Linked DNA regions of Homo sapiens: region 1 is linked to region 2. The links come from fine-mapping of genetic effects on gene expression. Tissue or cell type: whole blood. Region 2 holds a variant in brackets; the other region holds the start of a gene. All regions are shown on one strand. Distances are from middle to middle. Region 1 holds the start of CCDC138 (coiled-coil domain containing 138). Region 2 overlaps CCDC138 (coiled-coil domain containing 138).

What was found. PIP is the estimated chance that this variant, and not a neighbour inherited with it, causes the effect.
Region 1: it holds the start of CCDC138, and the variant in region 2 is fine-mapped to the expression of CCDC138 in whole blood (INTERVAL, PIP 0.94).

What each region holds. Positions count from the first base shown.
Region 1 is chr2:108,785,223-108,788,142 of GRCh38, reverse strand. CCDC138 (coiled-coil domain containing 138) reads right to left here and starts at 1,372. Exons shown (of 15, transcript NM_144978.3): 1 at 1,228-1,372; 2 at 54-111. The coding sequence starts at 1,320. It overlaps RANBP2 (RAN binding protein 2), which reads right to left. Exons shown (of 29, transcript NM_006267.5): 29 at 2,334-2,920. RefSeq lists a silencer at 974-1,563.
Region 2 is chr2:108,819,741-108,822,660 of GRCh38, reverse strand. All of the region lies in intron 10 of CCDC138 (coiled-coil domain containing 138), which reads right to left. It also overlaps a transcript of RANBP2 not described here. Among named protein-coding and RNA genes, the nearest start is that of CCDC138, 34 kb to the right of the region's middle. The variant A/TA (reference allele first, on the strand shown) is at 1,643.

The DNA of each region.
Region 1 (2,920 bases), 35 kb after region 2:
CCAGCCTCAAATTAAATTTTTGAAACCCCCAAATATACAAAATACCGGCTTACCTGGGGAGGTTAGAGTTCTTCTCTTATACTTAGACTGATAAAAATTTGAAAAATCATACTAAAAAAAAAAAGAAAAGATTTAATTTGTATACTAAAAATCAATTTACTGTCTCAAAATATTTCCCCACAAATTATGTATTAATTACAAAGGTTAGAGTGGAGAAATCTTGTAGACACCATCTTAACCAAGTGATCAAAACTAATATCATCAATAATGTGACAAACCAACGTCATGTTCCTCCCCACAGCAGGCCACACATCACTCATCTCATGCTCCTGCCAAAAATGCATAATCAATCTAACGAAGAAGCATCTATAAGATAAACCCAAACGGAGAAACAATCCAATAAATAATTCTTACACTTCTCAAAAAAAAAACAACCTTACAGAAAACAAAGGCTGTGAACCTGTTCCAGATTAAAGGCAACAAAAAGGACAATCAAATACAATCAATGCTCGTTCTTGGGTCGGATCTGCACTAGGAAAAAATTTTCCTATAAAAGGTTTTATCGAGATAATTGCTGAAATTTCTTATGAACTCTAGATTACCAAATATTATACCAATTCTAAATTTCCTGAAAATATTACTGTGGTTATTAAAAGACAACGTCCTTATGCTTAGGAAAAATGCACAAGTTATTTCTATTCAGAGGTAAAGGGGCATGATGCCTGCAAATCACCCTCAAATAGTTCAAAGGGAAAAAATGCGTTTGTAGGGAGGGAAGGGGAGAGAACGAATGGTAAAGCCAATGTGGCAAAATATTAATTTGTGAATGCAAGTGAGGGTACAAGGGAATTCTTGGTAATACTGCAGCAACTTTTGAGTAAGTCCGAAATTATTTCGAAATAAGCCGCTTTTAAAAAGCAATTCAATTGTTTTCACAACTCCACTCACATCACTGCAAAAAAAAGCTGAATAGCACTTTCTCCAACACCACACCATGCCCAGTATACCAGGAACACAGAGGCATAGGTGAAGCGGCACCCCCGCACCCCCGCAGCGCAACGCCCGCCCCTCCCGCCTGCTTCCACGAGGCCCAAGCCGCAGCCACGGCGGGAGTGCCGGGGCCGGGACCAGAGCCGCTGCGCGCCCCCAGGCCGGCTGCGCGGGGCACGGAGCGGGCCGCCCCCCAGCAGCAGGAGCCCACCCGCGGACCTCAGGCGGCGGCTTCACCTCGTCGGGGCAGCTGCCCCCGAGTCCGTAGCGGCTTTTGAGACTCTCCACTACTAAATCCTGCCCCGGTGGCTTGACGACCCTCGGCTCCATAGCACACAGCAACCGTACCAGTCTCCCCGGGAACCGCGTTCATCAAACCCGCGGCGCTACGCGGCCGCAGTGCGTCACGACGTGCCAGACCCCGCCCCCCCGAGGCACGCACGGCGGCAGGGAAAGGGCGGGGCGGGGCGACCCGGAGACTGCAGCCCGGCTTGTCAGCGCGTCCTCCAAGTTTCTCGTGCTAGCACTACACACCTCGTAACTGAGTAGTATTGCATCTCCCCGCGATAGTCCTGCCCCGGCTGCCTGGGTGCCACGGGTTGAGGGGCACCGAGGCCCCGCACCTGCCTGCAGCGCTCCGCTCCAGCTCCATTTAACCTGTTAAGTTTGGTGTGCGTTGCGCTCACCACATAGACCGGTCGTTCCATCAGAAGTGACCTTTGCTAACTGCCATATAAAAGAAAAACCAAGAGTATATCTGAGCCGGGAGTGGTGGCGCGCGTGTAGTCCCGGCTGCTAAGGAGGCTGAGGCGGGAGCATTGCTTTGAGCCTGAGAGTTACATCTATCTTGGGTAACATAGCAAGACTCCCATCTCTTAAAGTTAAAAAAAAAAAAAAAAAGGGAAAGCTGAGCATAGACATTGCAGATTACCTCACTTTCCCTGTGTTCCATATGGGGTATAACAGGGTATTAAAAAGAATAGTTAGAATGTAAGCACCCTGGAAAAAAAACTTTTTTTTTTTGAAAAGAAAAAAGCTTTTGCCAATACCTACAACAGTGCTAACCATAGTACATAGTATACATCAACCTGAAAACCTATGTTAAACAAAACTGACTGAGGGGAACTGTACAACCACTTCATTTTTCTCATTCATAAAATTACAGTGGTGTAATCTTTTACTTTCTAAATTGTGACTGTCAGCTGCATCTCTGGACTAACAACTCCTAAATTCTCTGGATTAAAGTTCCCAAATGCCCAAGTTTTATAAAATCTGTACTTCAGCAGTTATTATCTGAAAATTACTTAGGCCATACTTTTTGCCATAAAGTACCACTTAAGATGTACAAATAATGAATTTTATTCTATCTTTAAGCAGATTTTAATGAGACAACATAAAATCCAGTTTAAAAGGAAAGATACATATTATCGTGGGTTTAGACCACATCAGTGATTAAATAACAAAGAGAAATCAAAGTCCTTTCCTGAAATGTGACACAAAGACTTTCTCATAAATGCCACAAGCCACTTTTAAGCATCTTTGGAATACTAATACGGGAAAAGTCAGTTTACATGTCATTTTGTCAAATTTTTGGTCAAAGTTTTTAAAGCTTTTTAATTTGTAACTTTAGTGCTTTAGGAAAGCATACAAATCTGTAAAAAGTCTCTTAAAAAGCACTTGCATTAACTTAAGAATTTATTCTAAAATCATGACGAAGGCATCAACTGTCTCAGCTGAAAAGTTACAACACACTTTACATCAGTTTATATTACATAGATTTCCAAATAAGCCAATTTGAAATATTTAGTGTAAACATATGTAATCCATGGTTCAAGACTGAACTGATACATTTGGAGTAGGTTTATTTCAAGTATCTGGCTTTGTGGCCGAGTGGAATGGTGATGGTATACCATCACTCATTACTCGCACA
Region 2 (2,920 bases):
GTGGATTTTATAGTTATCCTTCCTTGGTTTGAGGTTTCACTTCATTGTGATCAGAAATTTTGTAATGATGTCAATCTTTGAAAATTTATTAAGACTTGTTTTGTGGCCAAACACGTAGTTTATCTGGAGGATGTTCCATGTACACTTGAGAAGAGAAGAATGTATCATCTGCTGTTGTTGGGTAGAGTGTTCTGTATATGTCTGACAGATCGAGTTAATTTATTATGTTGTTCAAGCCCTCTATTTCCTTACTTATATTCTGTCTAGTTATTCTATCTGTTTCTGAAAGTGGGGTATTGAAGTTTCCTAGTAGTATTATGTTACTATTTCTTCAATTCTGTCAATGTTTGCTTTATAATATTTTAGAAGTCTGATGTTTCAGGGCATAAATATTTCTCATTTATATCTTCTTGGTGAATTTACCTTTTTATCATTTATATAGTGTCCTTTGTCTCTTGTAACAGTTTTTGACGTAAAGTATATTTTGTCTTATATTAGTATTACTACTACTAGTCTTTTCTGGAGACCATTGACAAGGATTGTCTTTTTCCATCCTTTCATTTTCAGCTGATACGTGCCTTTAGATCTAAAATGAGTCCCTTGTAGACAGCATACAGTTGGGTGCTGGCTGTTTAAATCCAATCAGCCACTCTAGTTAGTTTTTTGATTTCATCTATTTGCATTTAAAGTAATTACTGATAAAGGAAGGACATACTTTTTTTTTTTTTTTTTGAGACAAAGTTTCGCTCTTGTTGCCCATGCTGGAGCGCAGTGGCACAATCTCACCTCCTGGGTTCAAGCAATTCTCCCGCCTCAGCCTCTGGAGTAGCTGGGATTATAGGCACCCACCACTACGCCCGGCTAATTTTTGTATTTTTAGTAGAGATGGGGTTTCACCATGTTGACCAGGCTGGTCTTGAACTTCTGACCTCAGATAATCCACCTGTCTCAGCCTCCCAAAGTACTGGGATTGGAGGCATGAGGCACCACACTCGGCCAGGAAGGACATACTATTACCATTTTGTTAATTTTTTTCTGTATGTTTTGTAGCTTTTTTGTCCCTCCTTTCCTTTCTTACTGCCTTTGGGTTTCACTGATTTTTGTGTGTGTTACACACTTAGATTCCCTTTTCATTTGCTTTTGTGTATATTCTGTAAGTATTTTCTTTGCAATCAATTACATAAAACATCTTAAAGTTATAACTATTTTACATCAATAATGCCAACTGAATACAATAACTCTGCATCATTATGGCTCCACATTCCCACTTTATGTTACTGATATCACAAATTCTATTTTTTTTGAGACGGAGTCTCACCCTGTTGCCCAGGCTGGAGTGCAATGGCATGATATCAGCTCACTGCAACCTCTGCCTCCCAGGTTCAAGAAATTCTCCTGCCTCGGCCTCAAAAGTAGCTGGGATTACAGGCACGTATGACCATGCCTGGCTAATTTTTATACTTTTAGTAGAGATGGGGTTTCACCATGTTGGCCAGGCTGGTCTCAAACTCCTGACCTCAGGTGATCCACCTACCTTAGCCTCCTAAAGTGCTAGGATTACAGGCGTGAGCCACCGCACCCGGCCACAAATTATATCTTTATATGTTGTATTAACCCCTAACATAGACTTACAGTTTTTTTT[A/TA]ATACTTTTGTCTGTTACATTCTATGCAAGAATTAAAAATCAACTTACATACCAGGATTACAATAATATAGGCTACTTACTATATTTGTCCATTTATTTGCCTTTAACACAGAATGTTATACTTTTATATGGCTTCATGTTGCTGTGTAGTGTGCTTTCATTTCAACCTGAAGGACTCTCTTTAGTAATTTTTATAGGGCAGGTGTAATGGTTACTGAACTCCCTCAACTACTGTTTATCTGAGAAAGTCTTAAGGACGGTTTAGCTGGATATAGTACTCTTGGTTAACAGTTTTGTTGTTTGTTTTTTTTTTTTTTTTGCACTTTGAATGTATCATCCCACTGCCTGTTGGCCTGCAAGGTTTCTGCTGAGAAATCTGCTGAAATTCTTATAGAACTCCCTTGAACGTGACCAGCTGCTTTTCTCTTGTCAATTTAAAAGATTCTCTTTGTATTTTACTTTTGACAATTTGATTATAATGTATGTTAGAGGGGGTGTCTTTAGAATTGTCCTCTCTGGAGTTCCTTGAGTTTCTTGAACTTGTATGCCTATTTCTTTCCTCAAAAAAAGGAAAGTTTGGGATGTTTTCAGCCATTATTTCTACAAATAAGCTCTCTCCTCCTTCTCCTTCTCTCTTCTCATTCCAAGACTTACATTACACATATAGTGGTTCACTTGATGATCTCCCATAAGTCCCTCAGACTGTCGTCACTTTTCTTCGTTTTTTTCTCTTTGCTCCTCTGACATAATTTTATTATTTTGTTAGAACTTTTTGTAGGCACGGGGTCGCACCATGTTGACCAGGCTGGTCTTGAACACCTGGCTTCAAGTGACCCTCCTGCCTTGGCCTCCCAAAGCACTGAGATTACAGGTGTAAGCCACTGTGCCCAGCCTCTGACTCAATTTTAGATTATCTGTCTTCAAGTGTGTTGATGTCTTCTGCGTAATGAAGTCTGCTGTTGACTTTTATAGTTCAGATATTGTATTTTTCAGCTCCAGAATTTATTTGGTTCTTTCTTATAATTTGTATCTTCTAGTTTATACTGTCACTTTGTTCTTGCATCATTTTCCTGACTTTGCTTAGTTTTTTGTGTTCTCTTTCCATTTTTAAATTATCGGTTACAGTTTTTAAATCATATATCACAAAGTTCAGAGATCTGCATTTCTTTAGGGTGAGTTTCTGAAGCTTTGTTTTCTTCTTTGATTTGATCAATGTCCCTGTTCCTTTGTATGCCTTCTGATCCTTTTTTAATGGGTATTTGGGCATTTGAAAAAACA